Linked DNA regions of Homo sapiens. The protein of the gene in region 3 purifies or fractionates together with the protein of the main gene of each other region. This does not show direct contact. Each region holds a gene or a part of one and is shown on either strand. Other genes may lie near its edges.

Region 1 (4,022 bases), on a different chromosome or scaffold from region 3:
CTTAGTCAATCTAGCTAAAGAGTTGTCAGTTTTGTTGATCTTTTCAAAGAACCAACTCTTGGTTTTGTTATTTTTCTCTTTTGTTTTTCTATTCTGTTATTTATCTATGTTCTGATCTTTATACTTCTTTTTCTCAAATTTAGCACTACAATATTTTATAACAGTAGAAAGCTAAAAACACTACATGCTAACAAACAATATGATATACAATCTAGGGGAAAGAGTCATCAGGGATTTATTACTTCTTTCTACTAGCTTTAAACTTAGTTTATTCTTATTTTCCTAGTTTTAAGGTATAAAGGCAGGCTGTTGAATTGAGATCTTTCTTTTTTAATGTAAATGTTTATGGCTATAAATTTTCCTATTAGCACTACTTTCAATACATTCCCCAAGTTTTGATATGTTGTGCTTTTATTTGCCTTTCTCTCAAGATATCTGTTCATTTCCCTTGTGATTTTTTTCATTGCCCCATGGGTGATTTAGGAATATATTGCTTAACTCCACGTGTTTGTGGATTTTCACGTCTTCCTTCCACTACTAATTTCTAGTTCCATTCCATTTTGATCAGAAAAAAATACTCTGTATGGTTTCAATCTTTTTTTTTTTTTTTTTTTTTTGAGACAGGGTGATATGGTTTGGATCTCTGTACCCACCCAAATCTCATGTATAACTGTAATCCCCAAAGTTGGAGGTGGGGCCTGATATAAGGTGATTGGCTCATGGGGATGGTTTCTCATGACTAGCTTAGCACTATCCCCCAATGCTGTTCTTGTGATAGAGTTCTAACGAGATCTGATTGTTTAAGTGTATTTGGCACCTCTCCCTTCTCTCTCTCTTCTTCCTGCTCTGGCCATGTGAGATGTCTCACTCCCCCTTTGCCTTCTACCATGATTGAAAGCTTACTGAGGCCGCCCAAAAGCAGAAGCTGCTATGCTTCCTGTACAGCCTACGGAACTGTGAACCAATTAAATATCTTTTCTTTATAAGTTACCCAGTCTCAGGTATTTCTGTTTTGTTGTTGTTGTTTTTCAGGTGTTTCTTTATAGCAATGCAAGAATGGACTGATACATAGGGTCTCACTCTGTTGCCTGGACTGGAATGCAGTGGTGTGATCACAGCTCACTGCAGCCTCAACCTGCTGGGTTCAATGGATCTTCCCAGCCCAGCCTCCCAAGTAGCTGGGACTATAGGCACACGCCACCATCCCCAGCTAATTTTTGTATTTTTTTTGAGATGAAGTTTCACCATGTTGCTCAGACAGGCTCGAACTTTTGGGCTCAAATGATCTGCCTGCCTCAGCTTTCCAAGATCTTGGGATTACAGGTATGAGCCACTATGCCTGGATGCTTCAATGTTTTTATATTTATTAAGACTTGTTTTGTGAAAAGATAATTCCTTCTTAAAGACAGCACAATAAAGGCATTTTTGTTTTTCTGAATGAGGTTTTAATTTTTTTATTTTTTAAGAGATAGTATCTTGCTCAGTTGCCCAAGCTGAACTCAAACTTCTAAGCTCAAGTAATTCTCCTGCCTCGACCTCCTGAGTAGGTGCAATTACAGATGTGCACCATCATGTGTGGCTTGAATGAGATTGTTAAACTTCAATATAAAATTACAGTTAAAAAAAAAAAACCCAATCAGAAGATGAGGAAAAAAAAAAAGACAAGAGGCATGTCTTATTTGCTGTATAGGGGCAAATAAGCACATAAAAATAAGTTCAAAATTATTAGCCGTGAGGGAAATAAAAATTAAACTTACAATTAGATATCAGTACACATGTATAAGAATATAAAAAAATGAAGAAAAGCAACAATAGCAAATGCTGATAACACAGAGCAAATGAATCACTCATATATTGCTAGTTGGAATTTAAAATAGTATAACCACTCTGGACTGGCAGTGTTTCATAAAACTAAGCATGGATTATCATATAATCCAGCAACTATACTCTTAGGAATTTGTCCCAGAGAAATGAAATCCTACTTTCACTCAAAAATCTGTAAACAAATATTCATAGAGGCATTATTTACAATAGTCAAAAATTGGAAATAACCCAAATGTCCCTCAATAGGAGAGTTAACAAACCCACTGGTGCCTTTATTCCATGGAATACTACTCAGTAATAAAAAGGAATGGATATATGCAACAACTTGCATGAACTGCAAGGGAATTATGCTGAATAAAAAAGATTAATCTGAAAGGGTTATATATTATATAACTTTATCCATATAACATTCTCAAAATGACAAAATTATAGAGATACAGAATAGATAGCAGTTTCCAGAAAGTAGAGATGGTGAGAAGAAATAGCATGAGGTAGTCTTGTGGTGATGGAAGAGTTATGTATCTTGAGTGTGGTGATGACTACATGAATCTACATATGTGGTTAGTGTAATAAAACTGCACACAGAGGCCGGGCGCGGTGGCTCACACCTGTAATCCCAGCACTTTGGGAGACTGTGGCGGGTGGATCACCCGAGGTCAGGAGTTCAAGACCAGCCTGACCAACATGGAGAAACCCCGTCTCCACTAAAAATACAAAATTAGCCGGGTGTGGTGATGCATGCCTGTAATCCCAGCTACTCGGGAGGCTGAGGCAGGAGAATTGCTTGAACCCGGGAGGTGGAGGTTGCAGTGAGCAGAGATCGCGCCATTGCACTCCAGCCTGGGCAACAAGAGTGAAACTCTGTCTCAAAAATAAAAATAAAAACAAAAACAAAAAACTACATACATGTACATGAACATGCAAGTGAATGCATGTAAAACTGGCAAAATCTGAATACACTCTCAGCAAATGTCAATTTACTGGTTTTGAAGATGTTACCATTTAGGGAAACTGTGTAAAGGGGACTTTCTATGTTTTTGGTAGCTTCTTCTAAATCTGTAATTATTTAAAAATAAAAAGTTTTGAAAAGAAAATAGCTACCTAAATTTTGAAGTAAAGTAATATATATCTTTTAACATTTGTACTTTATCAAAAATCCTGGTTTACAAAGTTAGTATTTGCTTTAAAACGTAGGATATATTGTTTGTAGAACAACTCCACATGTTTTATAAATATAGCACAACTGCAGCACTGAGGTTAACTGTGTTGCCCTACTACAGTAAGACACTATGCATCATTATTGTAGGACCTTAAGTACCTGCAAAAGCCATGCAGACATGGTCATCAAGGGCACAAATTTTCCTCACAGTTCTTTCATCTTGAAGCTTGGCAACAGATTTTTTTTCTACCCCAAGAACAACTATATTGGTACCTCGAATTCCGACCTGTCAAGTCATTAAAATACATATATATTCAGATGTCAGTTTAAAATATAAAACCAAGTTATTCTAACATATGACTTAGGGGAAATGACTTCTCCTTAAGTATTCAATAAAAACAAGAAAAGTAACTTTCTAGAAAACAGCTTCATAGGTATAGGCTTACTGGAGATCCATTCCCCAGACTCAAAGCAAGGAAGACAAATAGGTAGAAATTGCAAAGAAAATACCACCAATGCTGAAATTATGAGTGTCCTAATCTCATACAATACACCTGAAAAAAGCACTATCTAAATACGGTAAGTTCTCAATGTCATTGACAGGTTCTTGAAAATTGCAACTATAAGCAAATGATGTATAATGAAACCAATTTTATCACACCCCAATTAATATAAACAGGAGTTAGGTTCATATGAAATATTTCTGGTCACAAAAACATCCCCAAACTTCTAAACAAATACCTAAAACACCTCTAATATTAAACACTGAAATAAATGTGAGCTGTATATATAACAAACACTAACAAAAACAAGTATGATAAGGCTGGGCACGGTGGCTCACAGCACTATAATCCTAGCACTTTGGGAGGCTGAGGCAGGAGGACGACTTGAGGTCTGGAGTTCGAGACCAGCCTGGCCAACATGGTGAAACCCCGTCTCTACTAAAAACACAAAAATTAGCCGGGCATAGTGGCAGGCACCTGTAGTCCCAGCAACTCAGGAGGCTGAGCCAGGAGAATCGCTGGAACCCAGGAAGCAG
Region 2 (4,022 bases), about 39 Mb from region 3:
CATTGTTCAAGAAGCAAAATGGACTCCCAGGGTCAGAGTACTCAGTATACAACAGATGCATAATAAATGTTTGCTCAACTAAACTGTGTCATATAGATCTCTACTGCCTATAAAGCTATATGGTGTTTTATTAAATACATTAGAAATGAGGGCATTAAACCCCTCACATTTTAAACTGAAAATATTTGATTATACTCATGATAAAAATGCCAAAACTGGTAATAAATGTTGAATTTCATATATATTACTTCTTTGCAAGCACAAAAATACTAACCTTCAAATTCAACTGAGACTTTCCAGTGTAAATTCTGGAGGTGACGACGAAGCTTATGGCTATTACAAGCTCTGAATTTTTCCTTAGGGCACAATGGACAAGCCTGTCTGTTGCCTTAAAAAGAAAAAAGAATCAATAAACAACAGAATATTCTAGTTATTAATGCCTGGATTCAACTACAAAGAGGTTAATGGGGGCTCCCCCTCCTACTTCTTAAAGTCTTTCTTAACTTTAGGGAGAAGTCATTATTCTTGACCCAGGAGACAGTTAACAGTAATTGTTGCAGCACATGATCAGTGATTGTTTTTTCACCCTAAAATTTCCCTCTCTGTAGCTAGTGGATGCATTTGTCGTTACTGGGAACAAAGGTTGAAGAAGTGATAAACTGTATGACATCCTTCCGGCCAAATTTTCTGCCACTGAGAGCATCACTCTGTATTTTGGACAGCTGAAAGGACAGCAGTTACACTCCCAAAAGGACAGGGATTGGACAAAGAGCAAAAGTATGTGCTGTGGTATTCCTCTACTAAACTGGCAACAACAAAAACAGTTAACATGTGGAGTTAGAAAAATGGAAGAAGGAAGTGGAAGGAATAGATGGGATTTGATATAACCGCTGTTCTGAGACGGGGCGCATAGTTACAGCCACCGTATCCATTACTGAATTTACAAGTTCTGCCTTCTTTATTAACATATTCTCAAAAAGATTATGTATCATAAAAATGTCTTATTTAATTAGAAATATAATGTATCTCAAATAAAAACTTTGATAGTATAGATGAAAGAATTAAATTTCAAATTCAGGTTTAAAGCAATAAAATATACAGCAAGAATCATTAATAACTCATTTAGTAATTTTTTTCTTTTTTCTCTTATACCTACATACCTGTCAGCTCATATTAATAATTTTTAACCCAACAAATATCTTTCACATACAGTACAATAGAGTATAGGTACAATTTTTATTTTTACACTGTCTACTTCAAAAAAACCACGCAGTCAGCGATCTTGAGGATACAAACCAAACACTAAGGAGAGTAGAGCAGAAAGAGAGCAGTGTGGGGCACTGATAACGTGGAACTCTCATACCAGCCCTAAATTGCCTATCTTGGGACTTCATTTACCTGACAGAATATTAACCTCTTAAGACACTGTTTTTTGGGACCTCTGTTACTTGTAGCCAAATGCCATTCCTAACTTGCCGAATAGACAGCCCCTAGACATCCGTGAAATTATAATTTTCTTGAGGAGTTGTAAAATAACTTATTTCCATAGCAACTTTGCACATAAGCGGTTGCCAATTTCCTGAATAAAAAACTGTATTTTACCACTGTTCTAGTTCAGTAAGAATAAACAAGTCTACTCTTACCAAACTTATTTTTGTGAATTGAAAGATGATAAATTATTAGAAACTAAGAAAAAAAAAAAACCCAAACATGGAAATACCTGCATCAAGATTATCTGAGTTCAATGAGCTGGCAGAGTCAAAATTTCCATCAGTTACAAAAGCTAAATTCTCTAGATCAGCAAGCTGCCTTTGAATTGAGATGTGTCTCTCTGAAAAAAAAAATTGAGAAGATTATGCTTTAACAGTTTGTATTCTAGTTCCATTTTTATTGATCACATCGTATAGAAGTTTATTTCCTATAACACAGTGTTATGGACCTAGATGGGGAATACTGCCACAACTCGGTTTATAAAATAACAAGTGTGCTTTAGAATGAAAAGTTGGGGGGAGACCCCACTGTATAAACTTAGTTTTAAAATTTTATCTAATTAGTCAAAATAATTCTATGAAAAATGTTTCTGTCCTATACAAAATACTGAAGGAAACGTTAAGTCATGTTTTCTATCTTCAAAGAACTTTCAATCAGGTGGGAGAAGGCAATATGTCAACTTCTAACTATCATATGAGATAGGATGAAATGAACACTATTAAGTAGAGATTTGCTAACTGGCCTCATGAACTGAAGTAACCTCATGAACAAATCCATGTGTAGAAAACATACAACCATGCCACCCCACCCTTGGCTGGAATGTGGTATGTTTGGGGGGATGGAGTCAGTAGAAGTATGTGCAGCTGAAGATGCAGTACAGACCAAGGAAAACATAAATTCTACGCAAGTTAGTTTGAACTTTATTCTTCAAATAATGGTAAGTCTCTGCAGGTTTTTGAGGAAGTGAATTATACGATCTGAATGAGTTTCAGGAGGCTATCTCTGCCAGTAATACCAAAGATCAGTAACAGAGAAAATTAGCAATGGGAAGGGACAGAATAGAAGGTTAAAAAAATAAGCAACAGAACTTGGGATATGAGAAGTAAAGGTGAAGGATAAAATCAAAGATGATTCCAAGATTTTGAGTTTATGTGGTTGAGAATAATGGTATATTAAGCAAACAAGACAGAAGAAACTCTTATGGCAGAAAGGAAGGGGAAAAGAGAAAGGAAAATTTAGTTTTTGACATGGTGTGTTTGATGTACTACTGGTACAGTATTCCAGCAATAATGTATAATAGGCAGCTGGCAATTTGTTTTTGGAGCTCAGGAGGGATTCTAGAGATACAAATCGTAAGTAACACATTAGGTGAAACTATGAGAATAAATAAGAAAGCCTAAGAAAAAAAGTGTGAAAAATAAGAGAAAAAGCCAAGACCCAGTCTTACCTAGTTATGACTGATTTCAAACAACCAACTAGGCTATGTAAAATTAATTTTAAAATGTGATTTATATTTTAATTCTAATGCATTTCAAATTTCTCAATCATTACATATTTGTCCCACTAATGCATTTTCAGGTTTCTCAAGCATTACACACTCTTCAAATTAAATTAAATTTGGAAATACATGAATAAGTCTAAAATAAGTTTAACATGTTCTGACTGGGGTGGGTAGGGGATACATTCCCTACCTGTTGCTGAACCCGCTACTGATTATTATAGATAGATATAATCTGGTAGTGAGGTATGAGAGATGTAGATATTTATAAGAAAAATTAAGTAGAAGGAATCAGGAATGTAGATTCAGAAAGAATAAATGGTAAGGGGAATCAAGGTAATGCAGAAGCCAAGGGAGAAGAGTCTATAAACGCAAAACGTTCAACACTGAATATCACAAACAGTTGTAGAGATCAAGAAAGCACATCTGGTGACCTTTAAGAAAACAGGTTCAGGGAGGTGTTTCAGAGTAGAAACAGAATTGGAAGGGGAAAGGAAATACAGAAAATTAGGTTTTTCTTTTTTTGAGAAGTTTGACGGTATAAAAAAGGAAATGAATCAGACTGTAACTTGCTTTTTTTTAAGTATGGGGAACCTGAATATATGTGCATTCCAAGAGAAAGGAACAATTACAAAGTGGGGACTGAATATATATTAAGATTAGGAGAAACTGATATGTAAAGAGCCCAAGGAGACAGGAGATGGTGGGATAAACCACAGGGCTCTCTAATATTATGTTATTAGGTTATACAATTTAAAACCTTGAGACTTTAAAATTCAATTCTTGATATTAGCACCTTCTTGACTACTCCTCTCCGAGCTTCACTATCAGTTCGTTTACCCATTTGTATAATTTGTGTCCTTGTTCGCTTTCCCCACAAATAATCAACAGAAGACAAGGCCTATTTCTTGTTCATCTTTCTGATGGCTAAGTGCCTAATGCAGTAGCTTGCAGATAGGAGGCACTAAAGTTTGTTAAACAAGAAGTTAAAAAAATTGTTAGACTTTTTGGATGCAGTAGCACACTGTGTCAA
Region 3 (2,851 bases):
CCAATCGATGGCATTGTCAATCGGACCTGACATCTGATATTTGTCTGAATAACGCTCCACATCTGAGGGGTGGAAGGGTCAAAGTTTTATCCCTTCAGAGACCCAGAACAGGACTGTTCCTGAGAGTCCAGCCCTCTCAATACTGAGGAATTATCTGTTTCCTTACCCCAAACCCAGAGCCCAGGGGGTCAGCTTCAGTGAGGACCTTATCTACTTTTTTTTTTTTTTTTTTTGAGACAGAGTCTCGCTCTGTCCCTCAGGCTGGAGTGCAGTGGTACAATCTCAGCTTACTGCAACCTCCACCTCCCAGGTTCAAGCGATTCTCCTGCCTCAGTCTCCTGAGTAGCTGGGACTACAGGCACACACCACCACGCCTAGCTAATTTTTGTATTTTTAGTAGAGACGGGGTTTCACCATGTTGGCCAGGATGGTCTCAATCTCCTGACCTCGTGATCCACCTACCTCGGCCTCCCAAAGTGCTGGGATTACAGGCGTGAATTACTGCGCCCGGCCCCTTATCACTCTTCTAACCTGTTCCTTTTCCACCCAAAATTACGATTTTTTTTTTTCAGACAGAATCTCGCACTGTCGCCTGGGCTGGAGTGCAGTGGCGTGATCTCAGCCCACTGCAACCTCCGCCTCCCAAGTTCAAGCAATTCTTGCCTCAGCCTCCCAAGCAGCTGGGATTAGAGGCATCTGCCACCAGGCCTGGCTAATTTTTTTGTATTTTTTGTAGAGACGGGGTTTCACTATGTTGGCCAAGCTGGTCTTGAACTCCTGACCTCGTGATCTGCCCACCTCAGCCTCCCAAAGTGCTGGGATTCTAGGTGTGAGCCACCACACCTGGCCTTTTTTTTTTGAGACAGAGGTTTGCTGTGTCACCCAGGCTAGAGTGCAGTGGCAAGATCTCAGCTCACTGCAACCTCCACCTCCCAGGTTCAAGCGATTCTCATGCCTCAGCCTCAGCCTCAGCCTCCCGAGTAGCTGAGACCACAGGCACACACCACTGTGCCTGGCTAATTTTTATATTTTTAGTAGAGACAGGGTTTCACCGTATTGGCTAGGCTGGCCTCAAACTCCTGGCCTCAAGTGATCCACCCATGTCAGCCTCCCAAAGTGCTGGCCATTACAGGCGTAAGCCACCGCACCCGGCCATGATGATTTTTTTTTTTTCTGTCCCTTAGTTCAAAGGCATGGCTGTATTAAGAAATAGCGTGGTGCAGTGGAAAGTATGCTAGGGAATAAGAAACCAGGATTTCAGTATTCTCTTGTTGGTTGGTGCTTATAATATCCAGATTGTTAAAAATTTTGCTGGGCGCAGTGGCTCATGCCTGTAATCCCAGCACTTTGGGAGGCCAAGGCAGGAGAATCTCTTGAGCCCAGAAGTTCAAGACCAGCCTGGACAACATAAGGACACCCTATCTCTATTTTACAAAAAAATAAAAAATATATAATTTTTTAGAAAATACATCCCCCTACTTATACACGTGAAATGGGATTTTAATATTTAACCTCCTGCTGTCCCAAGACTATCATGAGACTCAAAACAAACCATGAATACTATAATGCATTTCAGATACAGGGGTAACTATTATGATCTCCCCAGTTAGATAGTATGCTTCCTGTGCCCCTCTGGCCCCCAGTGGTGCTGAGCACAGGGCACTCCCCATGGAAGGCACTCAGAATATGATGCTAGCATTCCAACTGACCTCTCTTGGGGACAGCTGGCCGGATGAAGTAGGGGAGCTGCCTCATGGCTCCTCGTAGCTCTTGCTTCAGTGCCAGGACATATTCCCCTTCCTCGCCTGAGGGCAAAGGTACTGGGCGGAACTCCAAGGGCTAAAGAGGCAGGGGCAGTGGTCAGTTCAGGGAGAAAATGCTAGTACAAATTTAGGAAGACCCCTCCTCCCAATTTAGTCTAACACTCCCACTGAGCAGAGGGCCAAATGACAATCGAGGGAGTAACATATTATTTTGAAAGCTGGGGAGAAGTAAAGGTGGACACTTCTTTGCCTGCAAAACATCCCTGTGCATTGGGAGTATAGAGAGAGGGCCAAAGCGAGGATGGTTTTATGATGGTCCAGGAGGAATTCAGAATCATGTACAGTCAGCCAGGGGCACATGAGAGTCTGGGAAGGGAGTGGAGAGACTCACAGGGAAGAGTGGAGAAGGCTGCAGGGTGGGTGGGGGCAAAGCATCCCCTTTCCCAATGCCCACGGCCTCCACGTTGAAGGTCAACTGGCCCCGGCCACGACCCCGGCCCCCACCCCGGCTGGCCATGGTGGAGGGGGCCTGGGTATTCAGAGATCCAGTGAATAAACCTAATAAAGACAAAAACAAAGAGAAAAAGAAATGTAGTAGAATGGACAGGAAGCCAAGGAGGTACAAGACATTCAATCTTTTATCTCTGGGACATGAAAAGTTAATGTCATTCAACAAATTTTGACTGAGAAGGCACAGTGTCAGAGAGAGAATTTCTGGAAATATAAACATGAATGAGACATGGTCCCCCAAACAGGTCAGATAATTACAATATAGTTTAGCACAAAGGAGAAAGTGCTGACACCTTTGGACAAAACTCTACATCCCTAAGACAATTTGATGTTTATCTCTATCTGCATTTCTTTATTTTTATTTTTAGAGATGCTCTGTCACCCAGGCTTGAGTGCAATGGTGCAATCACAGTTCACTCTAGCCTCGAACCCCTGGGCTCAAGATCCTCCTGCCTCAGCCTCCCAAAGTGCTGGGATTACAGGCATGAACCACTATGCCCAGCCACAAACTGCATTTCTACATATAACCTTTGAATTCTTTCTATCTCTGGCCTTCCAAACCTGACCAGGCCCCAATT
Region 4 (4,022 bases), on a different chromosome or scaffold from region 3:
TGGAGACCGACAGCCAGGCTCTCCATGCACTCTCGGGCTCTGTGCCTCCTACCTGCAGCCTCCAAGCTTCTAATCACCGCATGGCTCCTCTCAGACACAGCAGGTCCTGTGAAACCACCCACGTCCAGCCAGCACCACCATCACCCCCGGTCTCTTCCCACTACCCCAGCAAACAGGATGGGCAAACATCTCTTTTTGTGATGCTTTTCTCAGGAAAGACAAAATAATACCAAAACAGAATTCCCCTACCCGGAACACATCACTTTCTTGCTAACCACAAATTCTGGCAAAATCTGTTCTACATAACAGTGATTCAGTTAGTTCCTCTTTCTTCAAATTGACACGTTTTACCTTGCAAATTGTGTATGTGTGCGTGTGTGTGTGTGTGAGAGAGAGACAGAGAGAGAGAGAGGATGAGCAAGTTTAAAGACCAGTAACAAAACATATTTGCAGTGTTGTCAAGTCTTATCACATAAGAAATATAATACAAAAATTTATAAAAATGTAATTCTATTCAAATATTTGAGACTCTGCTACATAGCAGATAGTATTCTAGATACTGTGGTTAAAGAAAAATAGGTTTCTGTTTTCTGGAGAGAGCCAGAATTAAAAAAAGAAAAAAGTAACAAAACTATATAAACAAAATAAACTTGTAAAAAAAATAAAAATAAGTTTGCTCATCAGGAGTTTACTACCAAAATATGTGTCATGGCCAGTCACGGTGGCTCACACCTGTAATCCCAGCACTTTGGGAGGCTGCAGCGGGCGGATCACCTGAAGTCAGGAGTTCGAGACCAGCCTGGTCAACATGGTAAAACCCCGACTCTACTAAAAATACAAAAATTAGCTGGGCATGGTGGCACACGCCTGTAATCCCAACTACGGGGGAGACTGAGGCAGGAGTCACTTGAACCTAGGAGATGGAGGTTGCAGTGAGGCTAGATGGCACCACTGCACTCCAGCCTGGGCAACAGAGTGAGACTCTGTCTCAAAAAAAAAAAAAAAAAAAAAAGGGTCATGGAAGGGAGCGAAATGGGGCAGAAGGTTTTGTCCCTAATGCAAACAATACTGTGGGGCATAATTTAATCACCATAAAATGAACAAATTTTTTTTTTTTTTTTTTTTTGAGCTGGAGTCTTGTTCTGTCAACCAGGCTGCAGCGCGGCACCATCTCGGCTCACTACAACCTCTACAACCTCTGCCTCCCAGGTTAACGCAATTCTCCCACCTCAGCCTCCCGAGTAGCTGGGATTACAGGCACTCGCCATTATGCCCAGCTAATTATTGGATTTTTGTACAGACGGGGTTTCACCATGTTGGCCAGGCTGGTCTTGAATTCCTGACCTCAGGTGATCCGCCCACCTCGGCCTCCCAAAGTGCTGGGATTACAGGCGTGAACCACCAGGCCCAGACACAAATCTTTTTTTTAAATAGGGATGGGGTCTCACTCTATTGCCCAGGCTGGCCTCAAACTCCTGGCCTGAAGTGATCCTCCTGCCTTAACCTCCCAAAGTGTTAGGATTACAGGTGTGAGCCACCACACCCTGCTCAAAATGTATAAATAGGCCCAGTGGGGTGGATCACCCCTGTAATCCCAGCACTTTGGGAGGCCAAAGCAAGTGGATCACATGAGGTCAGGAGTTTGAGATCATCCTTCCTGGCCAACATGGCGAAACTTCGTCTCTACTAAAAATACAAAAATTAGCCAGGTGTGGTGGCACACGCCTGTAATCCCAGCTACTGGGGAGGCTGAGGCACAAGAATCACCAGAACCAGCCGGGCGCGGTGGCTCACGCCTGTAATCCCAGTGCTTTGGGAGGCCAAGGTGGGCAGATCACCTGAGGTTGGGAGTTCGAGACCAGCCTGACCAACATGGAGAAACCCCGTCTCTACTGAAAATACAAAATTAGCCAGGTGTGGTGACGCATGCCTGTAATCCCAGCTACTCAGGAGGCTGAGGCAAGAGAATTGCTTGAACCCGGGAGGAGGAGGTTGCGGTGAGCCGAGATCGCGCCATCGCACTCCAGCCTGGACAACAAGAGCGAGACTCCATCTCAAAAAAAAAAAAGTATAAACTTTAAGTGACAGCGCAATGAATTCTGACCAACGTATTCACACAGAGAACAGACCTGACATGAGCGAGCAGCTGCAGGTAAGGGTTGATGGGAGCCCAGGGTGCATGGAAGTCGCCCAGGCAAGAGGGGAAGGCTCGGGGCAGGGGTGAAGGAGCCCCGAGGGTCAGCAAAGGCCCTGGACCTGCCTCAATGACACTCAAGGAGTCATCGCCAGGTCAACGCGGACAAACAGCACGGAGCTTCCGAACCGAATGGAATGTATGGAATGCCATGGGATGAGCCGCAAGTGAAGCGTGACTCACCCTCGTTCTAAAGAGTCAATGTAGGGCCGCAGGACTGTATACGGCAGAGCCAGGATACGCCGTGGTCATCTGTACATATTTCTATCCATGTATTAATCGATCCCGAGAAATCAGGCTGGACGACCAAGCACACTTACCACACTCACTGCCGTTCTCGCTGGATGTCACAATCATTGAGCTTCATGACCTAAGAACAGGCCCTGAAAAAAACCCTTATCCTGCATAGTCAGAGGACAGAATGTTCCGGTCAATCAGATATTTTGACAGGAATAGTTTCAATATAAAATCCAGCCAGGCTCGGTGCCTCATGCCTGAAATCCCAGCACTTTGGGAGGCCCGGGTGGGAGGATTGCTTGAGGCCAGGAGTTCCACACCAGCCTGGGCAACACAGCCAGACTGTCTCTACAAAAAATTTTAAAAATTGGCCAGGCGTGGCTGGGCGCAGTGGTTCACCCCTGTAATCTCAGCACTTTGGTAGGCCGAGGCAGGCAGATCATGAGGTCAGGAGATCAAGACCAACCTGGCTAACACGGTGAAATGCCATCTCTACTAAAAATACAAAAAATTAGTCAGGTGTGGTGGCAGGCACCTGTAGTCCCAGCTACTCAGGAGGCTGAGGCAGAAAGAAGAATGGCGTCAACCCAGGAGGTGGAGCTTGCAGTGAGCCAAGATCGCACCACTGCACTCCAGCCTGGGCAAAAGAGTGAAACTACGTCTCAAAAAAATAAATAAATAAAAATAAAAGGAACAAAAGAAAGCTAGAGAATATACTACGCTAGGGAAACATGAGCACACTTATATAAGGAAGTATATGTTTCCTGAGTACATATATGAATAAAATGTGAAAACAGAACTAAAACGGTCCATCCCAAACTGAGAACAATGGTCACCTCTCAGGTACAGACAGGAGATGATGGCAATTAGGATGGGACTTTCACTTAATCTACAATGTTCTATTCTTTTTTAAAGAAAATACATTTGTCCATGTATGGCATAACTGAAAATTAAGTTTTTATAAAGAGGGTTGCCCTAGAGAGCATTCACAGCTTAAGCTTCAAAGAATTCAAATAGAATGAGACTCTTAATGTGGAAAAGTACAACAAGCACATTTTTTTCTGGCAACACCGAAGATGCAGGAGATTTCACAGTTCCCACATGAATACCACCAGTGGGCTCTGGCTGTGTGGCCAAAACTCTAGAGAAGAGGAAATTCACTGTATACCCGTAAGGCACAACCACTCCTTCAAACCAACCTTAGTGAACGTGTAAGTCACACACATAGTCTCCGGACAATATTCAGAGACTTAACTTTTTTCTTTGCTGTTTTTGTTTTTGTTTTCTTTTTTAAAAATTTGAGACAGGATTTCGCTACGTTGTCCAGGCTGGTCTCTAGCGCCTGGGCTCGGGCGATCCTCCCTCCTCAGCCTCCCCAAGTGCTGTGATTTCAGACGTGAGCCACAGTGCTTGGTCTCAAGGCTGAGGTTTTCTCACTCCAGCCCACCCAATCAGGGTCCCCATCAACACACATTCCCTTGACATTGCCCACTTTGGGCAAATTACTTACCTCTGGATTTTAGTTTTCTCAATGTAAAAAGACCTGCGAGGCCGGGCGCGGTGGCTCACGCCTGTAATCCCAGCACTTTGG

What was found.
Region 1: the proteins of POLR3GL (region 3) and PSMA8 purify together in Homo sapiens (affinity purification with mass spectrometry; one large-scale study listed by BioGRID and IntAct). This does not show direct contact.
Region 2: the proteins of POLR3GL (region 3) and TRMT1L purify together in Homo sapiens (affinity purification with mass spectrometry; one large-scale study listed by BioGRID and IntAct). This does not show direct contact.
Region 4: the proteins of POLR3GL (region 3) and SNX8 purify together in Homo sapiens (affinity purification with mass spectrometry; one large-scale study listed by BioGRID and IntAct). This does not show direct contact.

What each region holds. Positions count from the first base shown.
Region 1 is NC_000018.10:26,143,806-26,147,827, reverse strand, and holds part of PSMA8 (proteasome subunit alpha-type 8), read right to left. Parts: intron 3,270-4,022; coding exon 3,143-3,269; intron 1-3,142. UniProt on the Homo sapiens protein: Component of the spermatoproteasome, a proteasome specifically found in testis that promotes acetylation-dependent degradation of histones, thereby participating actively to the exchange of histones during spermatogenesis.
Region 2 is NC_000001.11:185,150,105-185,154,126, forward strand, and holds part of TRMT1L (tRNA (guanine(27)-N(2))-dimethyltransferase), read right to left. Parts: intron 1,832-4,022; coding exon 1,721-1,831; intron 389-1,720; coding exon 275-388; intron 1-274. UniProt on the Homo sapiens protein: Specifically dimethylates a single guanine residue at position 27 of tRNA(Tyr) using S-adenosyl-L-methionine as donor of the methyl groups. Dimethylation at position 27 of tRNA(Tyr) is required for efficient translation of tyrosine codons.
Region 3 is NC_000001.11:145,974,295-145,977,145, reverse strand, and holds part of POLR3GL (DNA-directed RNA polymerase III subunit RPC7-like), read right to left. Parts: intron 2,322-2,851; 5' UTR 2,281-2,321; coding exon 2,155-2,280; intron 1,840-2,154; coding exon 1,710-1,839; intron 63-1,709; coding exon 1-62. UniProt on the Homo sapiens protein: DNA-dependent RNA polymerase catalyzes the transcription of DNA into RNA using the four ribonucleoside triphosphates as substrates. Specific peripheric component of RNA polymerase III which synthesizes small RNAs, such as 5S rRNA and tRNAs.
Region 4 is NC_000007.14:2,307,676-2,311,697, forward strand, and holds part of SNX8 (sorting nexin-8), read right to left. Parts: intron 2,399-4,022; exon of another isoform or gene 2,378-2,398; intron 2,282-2,377; exon of another isoform or gene 2,182-2,281; coding exon of another isoform or gene 2,130-2,181; intron 1-2,129. UniProt on the Homo sapiens protein: May be involved in several stages of intracellular trafficking. May play a role in intracellular protein transport from early endosomes to the trans-Golgi network.